Homo sapiens: one gene and its partners. The protein of the gene in region 3 interacts with the protein of the main gene of each other region in a biochemical or structural test. Each region holds a gene or a part of one and is shown on either strand. Other genes may lie near its edges.

Region 1 (5,155 bases), on a different chromosome or scaffold from region 3:
GACTACTAGGCTTAAAAATTAGATTATAAGAGAATTTGCTCCTGAGTAGTTTGAGTGATCAAAGATATTTGGAATGTTTTAGTACCACAAGGTCTTTTTTCTGTTCCTTGAGGCTTTACAACAATTTAAGGTTAATTTAGATTTTTCCTTGCTTTAAGTTCTTTTACTTGAGACCTAAATGGCAGCCCTTATTCTTTCTGATGAATAGGTGAAATTTTGTTTACTGTGTTGGATTTGTGTAATGTGAAGTTTTATTCTTGAACAGATCGTTAATGTACTTGTAGAATTACTTTGAATTTGAATCACTTTCCTGCATTCCTTGTAAATAAGTTTCAGCTTCTAGAATCTCCTCACTTAGGTTTGTGCGTATCAACAGTGAAAATAAGTCTCTGAGAGCAAGGGTGAAAAAAAATGCAGCATTCGGTTTGACAAGTTTCGAGATAGCAAAATATGCTTGAAAGTCTGGAAATTCACATCTGCTTTAAGAAACATTTCATAATTTGACTTTGTGTGTGTGTGTGTGAATAGTTTTTCATGACTTTCAGAAGTGATTTATTTTGTTCTTTGTTATATATATTTTTGAAGGTGGCTGTTTTAGGAAAGATAATGTAATCACAATATTAGAACATAATTTTACTGTAATCTAATTTTGTGTGTGTGTGTGTGTGTGTGTGTGTGTGTGTGTGTGTGTTTTGGATGGAATCTCACTCTGTCGCCCAGGCTGGAGTGCAGTGGCCTGATCTCAGCTTACTGCAGTCTCTGTCTCCTGGGTTCATTTAAGTGATTCTCCAGCCTCAGCCTCCCCAGTAGCTGGGATTACAGGTTCGTGCTACCACACCTGGCTAATTTTTTTGTATTTTTAGTGAGGACGGGATTTTGCCATGTTGGCCAGGCTGGTCTCGAACTCCTGACCTCAAGTGATCCGCCTGCCTTGGCCTCCCAAAGTGCTGGGATTACAGGCGTGAGCTACTGCCCCTGGCCAATTTTTGTATTTTTAGTAGAGATGGGGTTTCACCATGTTGGCCAGGCTGGTCTCGAACTCCTCCTGACCTCAAGTGATTCGCCAGCCTCGGCCTCCCAAAGTGCCAGGATTACAGGCAGGAATGAGCCACTGCCCCCAACCATCAGTCTAATTCTTATTTTTGCTTTTTACCTTTTCATTTTTATGTAGTAGAGGTGATTGTGTATGTTATTTTGTAGTTAGCTTTTTTCCCCTGAACGTTGTATTGTAAATGTAAATTTTTTTTTTTTTTTTTGAGACAGAGTCTCGGTGTTTGCCCAGTCTGAAGTGCAGTGGTACGATCTCAGCTCACTGCAGCCTCTGACTCCTGGGTTCAAGCGATTCTCCCACCTCAGCCTCTTGAGTAGCTGGGGCTACAGGAATGTTCCACCACGCTTGGCTAATTTTTGTATTTTTGGTAGAGACAAGGTTTCACCATGTTGGCCAGTTTGGTCTCGTACTACCGACCTCAGGTGATGCGCCCGCCTCGGCCTCCCAAAGTGCTGGGATTGCAGGCGTGAGCCACTGCGCCCGGCTGTAAGGTTTTTACTTAACCATTCTATTGTTGGGAATTGGGTTTCCACTTTTTTGTTATAGATAGTGGTGCAGTGAACATTTTTAAATAGCTTTTTGCTTCAGTGTAATTATTTCCTTAGAGAAAGTTACCAAGAGTGGTTTTACTAGTTCAGAGGGCTTCAGGATTTTTATGGCTCTTGCTAGCGGTGCTCTATTATTCTTTAGAAGACTTGTATTACTTCCAGTGTCAAGAAGGTTGCTCTTCCATGGAATGGTTTCTTTGTAGTTTGTCAAATATTGTGGGGAATTTTTAAAGGAAAAATTGCATTTTTACTGTCAAGTGCATATATTATTAAGTGCTTTTGTTAGTTACTGGATTATTGATATTTGAGTTTAATTTGGTTCCTCTGAGGATTTAATAAGGTAATATATGTGAAGATGTTTTGAAACCTGTAACCATTATTATTAATGAGGGTACTTGGTTTATCTGTCGTGCTGATAGTACTGAGTAAAGTGCAGGAATGAAATTCCTGAGGAACTGTTCTAAAGCTTTGTTGTTGTTGTTAACCTTTCTTTTTCATCTGAAAGTGTTTTTTATTAGCTGCTAGCCTATGACCAAGTTATTTTTGGTAACTTTTTTGTAATTTCATGGCACTATTGGGAATTTTCGCTGGTTGACTCTTCTTCTTCTACATTCCCTTCCCCATTAAAAATAAAAATATGGATTTACAATTGTTACTCTATTCCTAAACCTAAATAATATGACATTAGAATTGCTTGGGATACAGGATTCAGTCTGAATAAAATATTTTTCTTTTAGTGATTTTCAGCTTAGTATTTTTACTGCTTCTTTCTCTTGAGGCATTGCAACTTAAAAATTGTGCTGTTTAGCCAGGCGCCTGTAATCCCAGCTACTTGGGAGGCTGAGGCAGGAGCATCACTTGAGCCCAGGAGGCGGAGGTTGCAGTCAGCTGAGATTGTGCCACTGCACTCCAGCCTGGGAGACAGAGTGAGACTCTATCTCAAAAAAAAAAAAAATGTGCTGTGATTTAATGTAGTTGTTCATCATGCTTCCATTTAAATTTCAGTGAGACTGTTCATCTTTTGCAGTTAAATATCTTGTAGAAGGGCCTAAAATATCTACGTTGAATACAGCTTTATTGAAGCATCTATGTACATGGGGTTTTTGGGATGAATCAGTGAATAAAGCAAACATATTGTCCTTTTGGAGTTTACATTCTAATGTGACTAGGCAGACAATGAGACATTAAATTACCAGCCTATGTATAATAGTGTATAAGAGCTATGGAATTAGAAGAAAGCAGATTAAAGGTATAGGGAGTGTGGGGAGGGGAATGAGTTACAATTTTAAATGGATTGGGGGAACTTAATTGAGGAGCTAACATTTGAGCAAAGATTTGAAGGTTGGGTATTTAGCCGTTTGCTTTTTATCTAGGTTAATTAGTCATGTGGCTTCATTAGTAATTTATAAGGTTTAAATGGCATCATCCTTTGTTATTCTTTTATGTGCACATTGATACTAACCATCTCTGAAGTTAGACCAAAAAAGTTAATTGACATTGAGGGTCATTAGAGGTAAATTGTAGATGGCTATTACTAACCAAAGAGACATGTTTTGTTTTTCTTTTGGGCTTACGTATTTTACCTAATTAGTTTAGTTTTTGTTTCAAGTATGTGGAGAAAATAAACTTTTTAAGTTTGGGCCAAAACTTGCTTTGGTTTTCTTTTTCTTTTTCTTTTTTTTTTTTTAAGAGAAAAATGTAAGCCTGTAGTTGCTTAAAGATTCCACATTCTGAAACAGTGAAAACATGGGATCAGTCATGGTGTTCCTTTTTTTGGTTAAATGTAAACTTGTATTTTCAGTGTTACTCTAATTAGCAATGGTTTATACTTCTACATAAGGGATGTTAACTCATATTGTAGCTATTTAATAGCCATATATTTTGACTTAAAGGAGGATCTCAAGGCCAGGCGCGGTGGCTCATACCTGTAATCCCAGCACTTTAGGAGGCTGAGGCGGGTGGATCACCTGGGGTCAGGAGTTTGAGACTAGTCTGGCCAACATGGTGAAACCCCCATCTCTACTAAAAATACAAAAATTAGCCGGGCATGGTGGTGGGCGCCTGTAATCCCAGCTTCTTGGGAGGCTGAGGGAAGAGAATTGCTTGATCCCGGAGGTTGCAATGAGTGCGGAGGTTGCAGTGAGCTGAGATCATGCCATTACACTCCAGCCTGGGCAACAGAGCGAGACTCTGTCTCAAAACAAACAAACAAACAAAAAAAGGAGGATCTCATTTTTTTGTCCTAAATAGCTACAGCCGTGTTAGAACTGTCACCTTAGCAAAGTATTGTTTTTTTACTTTGAAACGAATTTTAAGGTTTTAGAAGATTGTTCTCTAGAATTACAATTTTCTGTTTTGACTAGTGATAGTATTTTGATGTTGTGTAAATAGTTGAGCATGAACAAAACCCTATTTTTTTTTTTAGCTATTTCAAGTGATTGTGACAACTTCAACGGAGATGTAAACAGTTTATTAACAGTCACACCTATTATCTTTTTTTTTTTTTTTTTTTTTTGAGACGGAGTCTTGCTCTGTCGCCCAGGCTGGAGTGCAGTGGCACGATCTCTGCTTACTGCAACCTTTGCCTCCCGGGTTCAAGTGATTCTCCTGCCTCAGCCTCCTGAGTAGCTGGGTCTACATGCGCACACCACCACGCCTGGCTAATTTTTGTATTTTTAGTAGAGACAGGGTTTCACCATGTTGGCTAGAATGGTCTCAAACTCCTGACCTCAGGTGATCCACCTGCCTCAGCCTCCCAAAGTTCTGGGATTACAGGCATGAGCCACCGTGCTTGGCCGCTGCCGTATCTTTTTAAATGAAAGTACTTGTGTTTTTTTTGTTTTTTTCCAAAGGATATCTGGGTCATCTATGATGTTACTGTTACCATCTAAGGGTTTTTTTGTTTGTTTTTGAGACAGAGTCTCTGTCGCCCAGGCTGGAGTGCAGTGGCGTGATCTTGGCTCACTGCAACCTCCGCCTCCCAGGTTCAAGCAATTCTCCTGCCTTAGCCCTCCCGAATAGCTGGGATTACAGGCACCCGCCACCATGCCTGGCTAAGTTTTGCATTTTTAGTAGATATGGAGTTTCACCATGTTGGCCAGGCTGCTCTTGAACTCCTGACCTCAGGTGATTCGCTTGCCTCGGCCTCCCAAAGTGCTGGGATTACAGGCGTGAGCCACCCCCGCCCAGCCTCATGAGCTAAGGTGTTTTTTTTTTTTTTGAGACAGTTTTGCTCTTTCCCAGGCTGGAGTGCAGTGGTGCAATCTCAGCTCACTGCAACCTCTGTTTCCCGGGTTCAAGCGATTCTCCTGCCTCAGCCTTCTGAGTAGCTGAGATTACAGGTGCCTGCTACCCCACTCAGCTAATTTTTGTATTTTTAGCAGAGACAGGGTTTCACCATGTTGGTTAGGCTCATCTCGAACTCCTGACCTTAAGCGATCCACCTGCCTTGGCCTCCCAAAGTGCTGGGATTATAGGCATGAGCCACCGTGCGCAGCCTACCCTGTCTCTTAAAAAACAGTAACAACAACAACAACAACAAAAAATCCTAAATCTT
Region 2 (5,155 bases), on a different chromosome or scaffold from region 3:
GGCCAGAACTCATGATAGGAACTGGTGTGCGGGAGATGGCCCACCTCAGTATTTCCTCTCCCAGGTACCAACACAATCCTGTCATCACCATCACTCCACTCCACCAATGGACCATGAAGCTTCAGGGCCACAGCAAACAGCCAAAACCACACCGTGGGAGGCATCTCTGGACTCCTGGCCCTCACTCACCATGCTTTTGCACAGGAGGCCCAGGATCTCCAGCAACAGGGAAGCAGCTTTGCCCAACGGTCTCAGAGGCTTTGTAATCTCCCTACAAGAAGAGAAAAACCTAATGCTGACAGCCTCCACAGTTCTCTCACCACTACTCCATCTCCCTCCAAACCAGGGTATCCAACCCAGCCATTTCCCTACCACCTTTCCTCTGGTCTTTACCTCCCCTGAATTCCACCCAGGGGGACTTACCTGAACAGCTCCCCCATGGGCACCCCACCTTCCTGCAGAATGGGTGTTACCAGTTCCGCTAGGTAGAGCCACACGTGGGGGATGTCAATTTCCATGTCCTCAGCCAATTCCAAGATTTCATACAACCTGCCAAGGGAATTCAAAGTCAAGACATTCTAGGCCAGGTCCCCACTCTCCTTCTGGGGCAACGTGGCATGGCTAGGGCATCAACTATGGAACCCCCAGGAACATTTTCTAGACATGGGGACAATTATTTCAAGCTAAGGCCACCTCTGTGTCCTTAGATGGTTTTCACCCCGCTTAACCCCCTAAAGTTATGCTGACCAGGATGGTCAAGGAACCCATACTGTTTTTTGGTTTTTTTTTTGAGACAGTTTTGCTTTTGTCACCCAGGCTGGAGTGCAATGGCACGATCTCGGCTCACTGCAACCTCCACCTCCCGGGTTCAAGCAGTTCTCCTGCCTCAGCCTCCGAGTAGCTGGGATTACTGTGCCACCACGCCTGGCTAATTTTTGTATTATTAGTAGAGACAGGGTTTCACCATGTTGGCCAGGCTGGTCTAGAACTCCCAACCTCACGTGATCCTCTAAGGAATCCAACCCACCTTGGCCTCCCAAAGTGCAGGGATTACAGGCATAAGCCACCACACCCGGCCAGGGAACCTACACTCTTATGCAAGGTTCCAAGGGTCCCAAAAAGGAGATAGAAAATTGTGGGTCTGTATAAGTGGGAGGCCCAGAGAAGCTGGTCATACCCTTGGTAGTACTGAGCAGTAGACAGATGCCCAGCACAGAGCAGCTGGTGCAGCAGCTGCCCCATATGCTCACGAGCAATGGCACTGCGCTCCAGCGTAGACTCGACACCATGCCGTACAAAGATGAAGAGCAAGGAGGGTGAGGCCAGCTCCTGCACGCACTGGACTGCCTCCTGAGGGGTGCAGGGCACAGCAGGAAGAGACCAGTCACTGTCTGACCCAGACCCCGGACCCCTATGCCTGCCAGCATGATCCCTCCCTGCCCACTCCTCAATCACACGCCGCTCCCACTGCCTACTTTCATGTCATTGAGATGGAGATATTCCTCAATGATAGCCTTGGATTTCTTCTCTAACTCCTCCTCAGAGAGAGCCGCCTTCAGGGGGCTCACTGGGGGTAGGGCAGCTTCTCGCTTCACTGTGGGAAGAGAACACAGATTAGAGGGACTTTTCAGTCTTCCCAGCAAACAAGATTTGGAGCTCTCAAAAAGCTGGGGACCAGCTAGTCCCAAGGCAGCCAATGCCTTTCCCTCCATTCCTCTCCCAGACTCTCACCGGCATCCCGCCCACGGTCCCGATCCTCCGTGAGGCTAGCTGCCTTGCGCAGCCCCTCAGGCTGGGAGGGCCGTTCTCTACTCCGCTCCTCCACTTCCTTGCTGAAGCTCCGCTTGGTAGCAGGTGTCCGCGCACGATCAAGCCGGTCCCCACGGTCCCCTCCCCGTTCACTCCGCTCTAGGCGGTCTCCTCGGTCTCCAGCTTTCTCGCCTCGTTCTCGGCTCAAGCTACTCCTGGAAGACAGACAGACAAATTTTCACTCACTTGCACTGCCCAGGCACTCATGTAATTACACAACATGCTGAGCAACTGTTGGGCCTTGTTCTTAGCATAATGAGTATGCCCCAATCTAACCCAAGGGCTCCAACCAGGACAGGTATGAAGAAATTTCCAACCTATGGCAACAACCAGAACCCAATCACGGTACCCCCAGTGTGAATAACAAAGATGTCCAGGAAACCTCACCTCTGCACCACACGTCTATTATCTGTGCTTTCTGTGGGTACCGCTTGTTGAAGGGCTGAGAAGCGATTCAAAGTACTAGTAGCTGGGCGAGCAGCTTCTGATGCTGGGGATGCAGAAAATCCGTATTAAAATCTTTTTCTCCTTTCCTGCATTTTATCCCCTACTTGCCAGTTTAGGACACTTGGTCCCAGTCCCAAAAGTAAAGCAGTTCAATCCCTGGAACCACAACACAAACCTCCTCTATTGCCCGCATTGCCTAACCACCTTGTACTGAAGGCCTCCCTAACAGAAAAGGCTCTGTCCTCAAGGGAGCTCTGACGGGTAACCACCCAGCTCCTGACACTGCCTCCATACCTGCGTCTGAGGGCTTGGCTCCTGAGCCTCCGCTGCTGCCCTTGCCCCAGCTCAGTCGCCCTCCAGGTGCAAAGAGCTGGTTGTTAGAATCGATGGAGCCAGGCTGAAGAAGAAAAGGGGAGTAGAATCATAGGTCCAACCCGGCTGAGTCCCTTGGCCAGCACCACCATATGCAACCAAACAGGTAGTGAATGGCCCAGTCCAGGGGTCAGAAAATCTTTTTTAATAAAGGGCCAGTCTCTATTGCAACTACTCAATTCTGCCACAGTAGCATGAAACCAGCTGTAGATGATAAAGGCATGCTGTGACTGTGTTCCAATAAAACTTCATGGACACTGACATTTACATTTTATTTAATTTCCACAGCATAAATTACCATTCACTTTTTGATTTTTCGCAACTTTAAAATGTAAAAACCACTACTGGGTCCTGGGATGTATGAATGGGCTGGATCTGGCACGTGTGTGTGTGTGTGTGTGTGTGTGTGTGTGTTTGCCAAACACTGGTCCAGACTAATGGGAGTACCACCCTCCCTCTACAGCTGGCAGTCCTGTCTCCAGCAATCCAACCAGTTAGTCTAAGAGGAAACATTCAGCTGTCACCTTCTCAACTTTAGAAAAGTGAAGGGACTAAGATCTAAACCTGAGCTGAATCACCCACTCCCACACACACCCCTACCTTGGTGATCTTGGTGAGTCGTGAGGTGTCAATGGGGCGGCTACCTTTGCTGATGGGAACTGTGTTCCAGCCACCATCATCCACAAGGGGAAGTCCACGGCCTGACACAAAAAGAGGGGCATACTGGAATAATGAATAAATCCTAGCAGCCCCTTCCCCTTGGGCCACCCCCAGCCTCCCTTCCTCAGATCCTCAGTTCCATCATGGTGTCTCAGTGGCCCAGACACGTGGCACTAACAGGAAGTCATCAGAGGAAAGTATAACCTCCCGGTCCCTTCACTGCTCCCTTCTCAATCCCAGCTTGGAACTCACTGATGGGAGGGCCTGGAGGACCGCCCCGACGCTTGTCACTGCCCTTGGCCATGAGCTGCTGCACTTTGATGTGCTCTCGATGTTCTTCCATCTCAGCCTCCTTATGGATCTGGTCAATGGTCTTGGGACCCTGATCCCCTCGGCGTGGCACCCAATTGCTCTGTGGAGACAGAGGGCCAGTCACGATGATGTCAGGGAAGGCAAGACAAGGCAGTGTCAGAAACTGGAGGCAGCAGGCTGGCAGTGGGGAGGAGGGGGACACACACCCCTCGCAGATCCAGCACGTCCTGCAGCATAAAGCGGATGCGGGATGACGTCTTCTTTTCTTTAATGATTTTTTCCATCTGGTTGAAATACTGATCCATTCGGGGCTAGGAAGGAGAAAGGCATCAGACCAGGAACTTCTCATGTCCCACCTATAACTGCAGGCCCCACCCCTCCTCAGGCCTTCCGCCCCATCATTGTGGGCTCAGTGAGCCCCACATATGCTTCAGCCCATCCCCCTCCAGATGCAAGGACCTCTACCTTGGCTTTTTCAAAGTCCAGGTCTTTGCCAATGGTGGTGAGCAGACGACAAAGGCACTCAAGGGACTCTTCATCATGGTTCTTAAGCAGTTTGACCACACAGTCATGCATTATTGCCTCTGTTAACATCTTCAGTTTGAACAACTCTCCAATAAACTTGATATTCCCTAAAGAGCGCCGCCGGGCTATGTCCCGAGCCTCTTCCAGCTCTTCCTTCAGGCGTCCTCGTTCCTCTGCCTGCCATTCACAGGACAGGGATTGTGTCAAAAAGATAACCAGCCACTCGGCTAAAACCCTTTTCTACCTGGATATCCAAACCTAGCAATAAGCACTCAGTCCTGAGGCCGGCTGGCTGGGCATAGTGGCTCATGCCTGTAATCCCATCAATTTGGGAGGCTGAGGCAGGCGGATCACTTGAGGTCAGGAGGAGTTTGAGACCAGCTTGGCCAACATGGTAAAACCCCGTCTCTATTAAAAATACAAAAAAATTAGCCAGGTATGGTGGCACATGCCTGTAATCCCAGCTACTTGGGAGGCTGAGGCAGGAGAATCGCTTGAACTCAGGAGGTGGAGGCTAGCCAAGATCACACCACTGCACTCCAGCCTGGGTGACAGAGCAAGACTGTCTCAAAAAGGAAAAAAAACGTCCTGAGCCAGAGAAATCCCCAAGACACCACTACCTCCATTCCAAATTCTACAGCTGAGTAGCATCTGGGTAAGGGAAGGAGGTAAGTGGTGAGTGGAATCGATAGTGGGTTTTCTCTCACCGTAGCAGCTTCATCCATCTCTTTTTGCTTCTTCTCAAAAACCTCATCATCATCTTTGTCTTTCTCAAACTCCTTCTGACATCGATTCAACAACAGCTTTCGGAAGTTCACAGTCACTGTTGGCTTTTCCGTAGTGGGCACTTTCAGCTGTAGGTCAGAGAGAATGTCACACTCAAGACTAGTCCTGGGCAGGGAAGGCCCTCCAAGAGCCTTTAACTACCTGACCCAGGAAGATCTCTGGCCCCAGCTCTGCCTCCTTCCAGCTGGAAGAGGCACAAGTTGGAGGGGAACCAAGAAGCTGGACTCAAGGAGTCTTGGGAATA
Region 3 (4,328 bases):
CAGGATCCCCACTGGATGCACTGTTCTATGCTAAAGGGTAGGAGGGTGGAGTTTGTATTATCTTGAGTTTCAAAACAAGAAGCCAAAGCGAAAAGCATTCTAGGTACAGAAGCATCACTAGGCTTCATCAGCATTGAGGGCTGCCACTGTCACAAGCTAGGGTTTTGTTTAGATTTATTTAATCCCGAAGGTTAATAGAATTGTTTGTTTAGCATGGAATGAGATAACCACACGTTTAACTTAGAAAGCTAACTCTAGCAGTAGTCCACAGAGAATGATCGGTTAGAAATTAAAACCTAAAAGTGTAAACTGCCTGGGTTATCAGTTTTATGCAGATACCCTATACTCCAGGCTAGATCTTCTAAATCCATCCTCCTAAAAGAACCCCACATCTTCACCTTTAACAAGTACTTTGGGTATTACACTAAAATTAAGCCACAATCATGAACTACCAAATTAAAGACGTTACAAGAATAAGGTTTAAAACTAATCATAACTTTTAACACTTTAATATTAAAATCATACCAAAGCCTATCTTATCTACATCCTCTTCAAGAGTAGCTATCATTGTTTTATATCATGTAAGGGTTTAAGCTAATAATCTCATAGCCTAGAAACCTCAATATAATCATCAACTGGCAGGCCAGGCATGGTGGCTTATGCAGGAATAAGCCTTATGCTTATGCTTGAGCCCAGGAATTCGAGACCAGCCTGGACAAAATAGGGAGACCCAACCTCTACCCGCAAAAAAAAAAACCCCATAAACTGGCTTATCTTCAAAAGTGGATGGGTGTCAGTCTTGTACATGAAATATTAAGATCATGTAACAAATACATGTAACAAATTGTTTCAATAATCCGTATGGAAACCTTAACTCATAAAATGCACTACAGGAATTGTCTTGTGCCTTTTACATAAAACCAATAGACCCCCTGAACTTAACAGTACATTTTTCATAAAAGATTCTTATGTCGGCTCAGCACCATTAAGATATTACCTATTTATGCATGGCAATTATAAAGACTTTGAAAAAAAGCAAATCCGTGCACTGTTTAAGGAATTTTTATTAAAGCAAGAATTTTATAATCCAAATTACGTTTCCTTGCTCAGTTATCAATTCTGTTACTTAAAACAGAACTGACATTCTGAGCTATTCCACAGTAAAGAATTACAAAATTAAAGAAAGGAATGCTTTAAATTTTTGTACTTTGCTGAAAATTCTTTTTCCCAGGGTCTATAAAACATTAATTTGTTTTTATATTTTACTATTTTTTTGTGTTTTTTTGTTTTTAAATCAATAAGTAATCTAGGACTAGCATTATGTTTGCTAGACCTGGCATTTGCTCGGTACATAAGGTTCAAAGTTTCCTTTCCTTTTTTTATTTATTTTATATTTTGCAATGTTTTTTTTCCATAATATTTAAGTTTTTCGATGTTTAGATATTTTTCTTCGGTGAAGCACAAGTTTCTTTTCATGGTCCCTGATCAATCTGTAAATGTTAAAAAAACAAATTAAGACCAGGACTATCACTTGTCAGTAGCAAATTAAAGCCCTTAGCCAAATGCAATGTGGTTGTTTTTATCCATAGTTTTACTGGAACACAGCCATACCTGTTCATTTGTATACATACTATCTATGGTTGTCTTGACATGGTAACACTGGAACAAGATCATTTCAGAGATAACACAGTCCTCAAAGCCCAAAATATTTCCTATCTGGCCCTTTACAAAAAACATTTGCCAATCCCTGGTCCTGATCCTGGCTGCACTACTCAATTTCTTGGGAGTGATGAAAGACAGTAGTAGAGACCCAAGGGCACCACCCAAAAAGGAAAGGTAAAACTATGAAAGCCAACCTGTGACAGGTCATTTTATATATATATTACTATACAAAATCTGGCAGGGCGCAGTGGCTCACGCCTGTAATTTCAAGACTTTGGGAGGCCGAGGTGGGCGGATCACTTGAGGTCAGAAGTTCCAGACCAGCCTGGCCAACATGGCAAAACCCCAAGTCTAGTAAAAATACAAAAATTAGCTGGGCACGGTGGCAGGCATGGGCCTGTTAATCCCAGCTGCTCGGGAGGCCGAGGCAGGAGAATTGCTTGAACCTGGGAGGTGGAGGTTGCAGTGAGCCGAGATCGCGTCAATGCACTCCAGGTTGGGCGACAGAACGAAACTCCATCTCAAAAAAAAAAAAAAAAAAAAACACCACCTGAAAGTCCTGGGATTTTAAAAATCCAACAGTTAACGGGTAAAATTCCTTTAATTCCTCTATAGTTAGTTCCACTTTTCCTTGAAAAATTAGCAATACATTTAAATGAACTGTAAAATGATCTTTTGCTATGTACATTTCAAAATATGCTCAACAAACTTTATAAAAGATGAAGAAAACAAGCTTAAAACAACAAACCAGAGGGAAAAGCTCACTTTAAACAGTTGGAACACCGGTGGCACTGTTAACTGCTTTCTGGGCAGCCTCTTTAGCTTGGTGGGCTTGTAGTACAGCTACAGCTTCATCAACCTAAAAAAGGGGAAAACAGATAAACTGGTTCAGGAAAGGAATGGAAATAAAGAGTTTCATAATGGTAACATACCAATTCCCAACAAAGATAAGTTTCTTCCCTCAAATGAAAGTATAAATTGTTACACTAAACAACTATATCCATTCAATTTTGAGTTCTATTACACCACTATTCTAGAATTATGAATCGCTCCCCTGCACTACTCTTTCCTTGTCCTCCCCACACTCGAAAAATATTTCTCTTTCTCCACTAGAGAAAGCAGCAGCAGTTGAGAGTATGGCTGTTGGAGCTGATGGGATTTGAAGCCAGGCTCTGCCACTTAAGAGCTGTGTGAGCATTTGGCAAATTATTCAGCCTGTTTCAGTTTACCTATCTATAAAATGGGGATAAATAGCGCCACAGGTTATTATGCAGACTTTACAACTGTACATGGCTTATATATAACACGATGTAAGTGTTCTGTACAATTAAGTCCCCATAAAAAGCCACGTAATAACTGTGTAAGAGGCAACTTGGTAAATAAATTTAAATCACCTTAGAACGGAGTGACTCTGGAGACTCGAGCATATGAAGAAGTTCTGAATTATCAATCTCCAACAACATGCCAGTGATTTTACCAGCAAGAGTAGGGTGCATGGCTTGAATAAGAGGAAACAGCCGTTCACCTAGGAACAGAAACATTCAAAAACTCCCTTCAATAAAAAAAAGTTTTTAACTGCATTGAATTACCACATTAAACTGGGGTTTAAGAACCATACTTCTGTCTCACGTATATAATAACCCATAATCCACAATTTCATTATGTCTTCATGGGAAGACAGAATAAAATCTGCCACAAGGCAATTAACTCTTGATATTATCAGCTTGCCAATTAAGCAATGTTACCATTAGGTTGTTAAATCGGTGTTCAGGCAAAGTCACAAGTTTTCTTCTCATTTGCTTCAAATTCCTTCTCTCAAAAATGTAGTGAGGGCCCATGGTGAGTAATGCCCTACTACCCTATTTATTACTAACAATACATTTTCTTATTGGCTTTCCAGTGGTTTTAATTAGGCAGACCAACTGTACTATCATAATCATTCATGCCAATTCAGATCAATTCCACTGCCCTAGCTGTCAATTGATTGACCTAGTGCCTAAGTGATTCCTATATTTTCTAGTCTTTCTGAACTGACAAGGTGGGACAGAAGTACTCACCCAACATTTGCTTTTGCTCTTGAGGAGGGGCAGATGCCAACATGGAAGCAGTCAAAGGTTCCTGACCTTGTACATGAACAGCAGGCTAGACAGAAAATGAGAACTCTTAAGTTTAAAGCACAGAAAAAGATGGCAAATACAAATAGTCATCAATGGACATCTGCTGAAGTGGTAGACTTCCATCGAAACATGAGGTGGAGAAGTTGAGTGAGCGAATTAGAAAGAAGCCAAAGTAGTTATTATATACTATGTATCACAGATACATTTTTTTTCTTTTTGAGATGGAGTCTCACTTTGTCGCCCAGGCTGGAATGCAACGGCACAATCTTGGCTCGCTGCAACCTCCGCCTCCGGATTCAAGCAACTTTCCTGCCTCAGCCTCCCCAGTAGCTGGGATTACAGGCATGTGCCACCAAGCCTGGCTAATCTTTATATTTTTAGAGCTGGGGTTTCACCCTGTTGACCAGGCTGGTCTCAAACTCCTGACCTCAAGTGATCCACCTGCCTTGGCCTCCTGAAGTGCTGGGATTACATAGAGGTGTGAGCCACCACGCCTGGCCCATAGCTACTTGTAATAGTTGTTTCAGACCAGGCGTGGTGATTTAGGAT
Region 4 (5,155 bases), on a different chromosome or scaffold from region 3:
AGCCTGGTGAAACAGCGAGACTCCATCTCAAAAAAAAAAAAAAAGGTGCAGAAAACAACACAGAAGTTTATGTTGGAAGATCTGAACTGTTTGTACAAATTCAGGTTCTCCTGATCTCTAGGCCTGTTTCCTCATATATAAAATTGGAAAAAGCAATACTTGTTAAAGAAATTTAGAACGGAGCTAATTAAAGAATAATGTATTTGAGGAGGGGAAAACATTACATACATTGATACCGCAAAACTTAAAAATTCAAGTTGGAAATCCAGTTAAAAACAAGGAAGTTTATTTTTTTTAAGACGAACATCCAGTGCTGGTGAGGCTGTGGTAAAACTAACACTCATGCTGCTAGTGGTGACAGAAGTTAGCACAGTATTTTTGCGATGCTATTTACCAATATGCATCAACTTTAATAAGAAAATCCTTTGAGCCCAGCAGTTACATCTATGAGTTTATCACTAAGATATGATCCCTGGCTCATCGGGAAACAGCTAAAATAAACTAAACTTGTTGAATAAATTATGGTCTATCTATACCACTAATATAAAGCCATTAAGAAAAAGACATCAATGTTATGTTGTTAATAAAGTTTTTGGACCGGGCATGGTGGCTCATGCCTGTAAGCCCAGCACTTTGGGAAGCCAAGGCGGGCGGATCACCTGAGGTTAGGAGTTCGAGACCAGCCTGGCCAACATGGTGAAAACCGGTCTCTACTAAAAATACAAAAAACAATTAGCTGGATGCGGTGGCACACGCCTGTAGTCCCAGCTACTCAGGAGGCTGAGGCTGGAGAATCTCTTGAACCTGGGAGGCAGAGGTTGCAGTGAGCTGACATCACACCACTGCACTCTAGCCTGGGTGACAGAGTGAGACTCCGTCTCAAAAAAAAAAAAAAAAAAGAAGGCCAGGTACGGTGGCTCACGCCTGTAATCCCAGCACCTTGGGGGAGGCCGAGGCAGGTGGATCACAAGGTCAGGAGATCGAGACCATCCTGGCTGACACAGTGAAACCCCGTCTCTACTAAAAATATAAAAAATTAGCTGGGCGTGGTGGCGGGAGCCTGTAGTCCTAGCTACTCAGGAGGCTGAGGCAGGAGAATCACTTGAACCAAGGAGGCAGAGCTTGCAGTGAGCTGAGATCGCGCCACTGCACTCCAGCCTGGGGGACAGAGTGCAAGATTCTGTCAAAAAAAAAACAAGAAAGAAAAGAAAAGAAAAAAAGTTTTCAAAACTAGAAACAAAATGCACAACAATGATTTCCCCTCCCAGGAAACCCAATTTCTTTAACATTTTGGGTACCTTGTACTTATCCACAATTGGCAGCCTGATTGGTCCATCAACTGATCTATTGAAGTTCGGCAAATTATCCAGATATGGAATAAACGGTAATCCACTGAGAACATAACAACAAAGCCATTAAAGGAAGTCAACATAAATATCAAAATGTTAAGTTACATGACTATAAACAGCTTCTAATAATATTTTCATTCTACTCATGTATTCTTCCCATTCAACCACTTTATTATCCATTTCATCTCACTTATTCCACAGAAAACTATTATAAAACTGCTCAGTATAAGGCTTCCTCATAAACTTATTAAAATTTAGAGAAATATTTTATAGCAAATAGCCTACATGTAATAAATTGACTATATTACTTTTTATGGACTTTTCCAGCTATGAAACCAAGATTCTATAAAATAATTTCCCCTTTAAACATACAGTATTGGCTGCGTGCAGTGGCTCATGCCTATAATCCCAGCACTTTGGGAGGCCGAAAGGCAGGTGCATCTCTTGAGCCCAGGAGTTCGACACCAGCCTGGGCAACATGGTGAATCTGTCTCTACTAAAAATACAAAAATCAGCCGGGTGCGGTGGCATGTGCCTACAGTCCCTACGACTTGGGAGGCTGAGGTGGGAGGATCTCTTGAGCTGGGAGGCAGAGGTTGCAGTGAGCCGAGATCATGCCACTGCACTCCAGCCTGGTTAACAGAGTGAAAACCTGTTTCAAAAAAACAAACCAAAAAAAAGAAACACGGAGTTCAAGAATAAACTCGTATTTATGGTCATTTGATTTTCAAAGAGGGAGCCAAATCAATTCAATGAAAAAAGAATAGTCTTTTCAACAAATTGTGTGTAAACAATTAATATACAAAAACAAAACAAACCTACACATAGACCTTACATCTTACACAAAAGTTAACTCAAAATCAAATACATATCTAAATGTAAAAAACTTCAAAAATAAAACCTTTTGTGCTTCAAAGGACACCATCGAGAAGTGAAAAAAGGCAATCCATAAAGTGGGAGAAAATACTTGCTATAATCATATTGTAGCTGATAAGGGACTGGTAGCCAGTATTAAAAAGAACTCTTAGGACTCAGTAACAAAATGACAACCCAGTTTAAAAATGGGCAAAGATCTTAGTATTTTTAAAGCCAAGGTTACATTTAATATTTTCTTAAATTACTTATAAAGATATATGCTCAAAAGCATATGTTAACATGTTACTCAGCATATGTCTTTATAAGTAATTTAAGTAATAACATCCTTTTCCTTTTTAAAAAAAGGAAAAAACAGTTACTTACATGTACCAAGGACAGAAATCCGACTGCTCTTTGAGATTTGCTCCAGTAAGTCCTGAGCAGGGCATAAAGTGAATGTCCTTTTTGGGATTGAAGCCAACTTTTTTCAAAAATGGCACTAGTTTCTCCTTACATTCTTCATATCTGCAATTATAATGTAACCAAAATAACTCAATTATAATGTAAACCAAGAACTCTAGTTTCCTAAGTAAACAGATTAAGGTTTAGAAAAACCCTAGAGAAAAAGTCGTACAATAACAAAACCATCCTTAATCCCACTAACATAAAATACCAGACATCTACGCTCACCTCTCATTGCTCCAATTTACTGTTGGATCATCCATCTTATTAATTAGCACAATTAGGTGTTTTACACCTGCTGTCTTTGCCAACATTGCATGTTCTCTTGTCTGTCCTCCTTTTTCAAATCCAGTTTCAAACTCTCCTTTCCTGGCTGAGATTACCTAATTCCAAGAAAGGAAACAGTTTACTCCTTCGCCTTCAGGCATACCCTTATGGCAGTAAAACATCTTTCCTTTCAGTTATATCACGAGTTTTTTTTTTTTTTTTTGCAAGAAAATAGAAGCAAACGAGTTATGACGTACCTGCTTTTGAATGTCACAAATCAAACAATGTCTAGATGCTTCCAATCCCCCACATTCCCAAAATCTAGTATACCTGCATATTTTAAAATTCCAACATTTACTTTCTAGCTATTGTAACTACAAAGGAAAAAAAATTGTGATCTACTACCAGTACATTGTGAAAAGCGCAAAATGACTGAAGACCGTATGAAACAGATGGTTTCCTATTCATTTTTTACCCATGGTGCCTAACGGTGGGCTTGGCATTTAATGGAGACTAAGTTCTGACATGGTAATAGATAATAGCAACAGGAGAGAAAAGGTGAAACGTATTTTCAGAAGTAAATCAAATTTTGAAGATTTCTTGAAGAGAGATTAGTATGATGAAAACTGTGACCGTGTACATCATTATATTTCACTGCAACCTGAATTTGAGCTTTTAGAAGATAAATTCAAATTTAAAGATATAAGCGGGGCTACTAACAAATATACAGATGGACTGGAAATGTCTTTCTTACCAGCACAGCCAAATCAGCTTGAGAGGCACCACCAATCATATTTGGGACAAAACTCTTGTGGCCAGGGGCATCTAGAATTGTGAAATGCTTCTTTTCGGTTTCAAAATAGGCACGACCCACTTCTACTGTTTTACCCTTGTCTCGTTCTTCCTGATTTGTGTCTAAGGCCCAAGACAAGTACCTGAAATAATTTTTAAAAAAAGAACAATATTCCTAAGAACATCAGAGTTTTTAGGATATTCTTCACCATTAAAGATATAATGGATGACACACAACACCTAAATCACGAACAAGATTGGTGAAATGAAAATTGAGCCGGGTGCGGTGGCTCACATCTGTAATCTGAGCACTTTGGGAGGCCAAGGCGGCGGATCACAAGGTCAGGGGTTCGACACCAGCCTGACCAACATGGTGAAGCCCTGTCTCTACCGAAAATACAAAAATTAGCTGGGTGTGGAGGAGCCCACCTGTAGTACTTAGGAGACTGAGGCAGGAGAATCGCTTGAACCTGGGAGGAGGAGGTTGCAGCGAGCCAAGACCGTGCCATTGCACTCCAGCCTGGGCGACAGAGCAAGGCTCCGTCTCAAAAGAAAACAAAGAAATTGAAAGAATAGGGCTGGGCGCAGTGGCTCACGCCTGTAATCCCAGCACTTTGGGAGGCCGAGGCTGGCAGATCACCTGAGGTCAGGAGTTCGAGACTAGCCTGGCTAATATGATGAAACCTCATCTCTACTAAAAATACAAAAGTTGGGCATAGTGGTGCACACCTGTAGTCACAGCTATTTCGAAAGCTGAGGCAGGACAATCGCTTGAAGCTGGGAGGTAGAGGTTGCAGTGAGCCAAGATCGTGCCATCGCACTCCAGGCTGGGCAACAGAGGGAGACTCTGTCTCTCAAAAAAAAAAAAAAAGGGCTAGGTGCAGTGGCTCATGCTTGTAATCCAAGCACTTTGGGAGGCCAAGGCAGGCGGATCACCTGAGGTCAAGAGATTGAGACCATCCTGGCCAACATGGTGAGACCCCATCTCTACTAAAAATACAAAAATTAGCTGGGCATGGTGGCGGGCGCCTGTAGTCCCAGCTACTCGGGAGGCTGAGGCAGGAGAATCGCTTGAACCCAGGAGGCGGAGGTTGCAGTGAGCTGAGATCGCGCCACTGCACTCCAGCCTGGTGACACAGTGAGACTCCGTCTCAAAAAAATAAATAAATAAAATAAAACTGAAAGAATGTATTATTTTGATTCAAACCCTTAGAGCTTTTATATAAACGCAGTCAATTATACCATCTAGAACTTTATGGCAAGTTGACTACACAGAAAGACTAACTACAAATGCCAATATCACTGTGTGTTAAGTGATAATGAGCTCCCTTATTACTTCATTTTTATACTCACATGGCACAAAATACAACACAAATAATGGCTGTCTTGAGAGTTAAAGGGTAATAATAAAACTTTTTTGGATGGATGCT

Evidence for each region.
Region 1: the proteins of PABPC1 (region 3) and ATXN2 are reported together in a solved structure, tested with the Homo sapiens proteins (2 studies listed by BioGRID and IntAct, with this or other methods).
Region 2: the proteins of PABPC1 (region 3) and EIF4G1 form a complex in vitro, tested with the Homo sapiens proteins (2 studies listed by BioGRID and IntAct, with this or other methods).
Region 4: the proteins of PABPC1 (region 3) and GSPT1 are reported together in a solved structure, tested with the Homo sapiens proteins (3 studies listed by BioGRID and IntAct, with this or other methods).

The regions. Positions count from the first base shown.
Region 1 is NC_000012.12:111,591,742-111,596,896, reverse strand, and holds part of ATXN2 (ataxin-2), read left to right. Parts: intron 1-5,155. UniProt on the Homo sapiens protein: Involved in EGFR trafficking, acting as negative regulator of endocytic EGFR internalization at the plasma membrane.
Region 2 is NC_000003.12:184,324,025-184,329,179, reverse strand, and holds part of EIF4G1 (eukaryotic translation initiation factor 4 gamma 1), read right to left. Parts: intron 4,980-5,155; coding exon 4,833-4,979; intron 4,303-4,832; coding exon 4,066-4,302; intron 3,912-4,065; coding exon 3,807-3,911; intron 3,701-3,806; coding exon 3,541-3,700; intron 3,485-3,540; exon of another isoform or gene 3,409-3,484; intron 3,330-3,408; coding exon 3,229-3,329; intron 2,654-3,228; coding exon 2,551-2,653; intron 2,300-2,550; coding exon 2,197-2,299; intron 1,965-2,196; coding exon 1,732-1,964; intron 1,595-1,731; coding exon 1,476-1,594; intron 1,351-1,475; coding exon 1,178-1,350; intron 550-1,177; coding exon 424-549; intron 272-423; coding exon 190-271; intron 1-189.
Region 3 is NC_000008.11:100,701,870-100,706,197, forward strand, and holds the end of PABPC1 (polyadenylate-binding protein 1), read right to left. Parts: intron 3,805-4,328; coding exon 3,720-3,804; intron 3,188-3,719; coding exon 3,057-3,187; intron 2,522-3,056; coding exon 2,429-2,521; 3' UTR 2,428-2,428; exon of another isoform or gene 1,491-2,427; 3' UTR 1,047-1,490; downstream 1-1,046. UniProt on the Homo sapiens protein: Binds the poly(A) tail of mRNA, including that of its own transcript, and regulates processes of mRNA metabolism such as pre-mRNA splicing and mRNA stability.
Region 4 is NC_000016.10:11,883,883-11,889,037, forward strand, and holds part of GSPT1 (eukaryotic peptide chain release factor GTP-binding subunit ERF3A), read right to left. Parts: intron 3,869-5,155; coding exon 3,688-3,868; intron 3,050-3,687; coding exon 2,895-3,049; intron 2,730-2,894; coding exon 2,589-2,729; intron 1,393-2,588; coding exon 1,299-1,392; intron 1-1,298. UniProt on the Homo sapiens protein: GTPase component of the eRF1-eRF3-GTP ternary complex, a ternary complex that mediates translation termination in response to the termination codons UAA, UAG and UGA.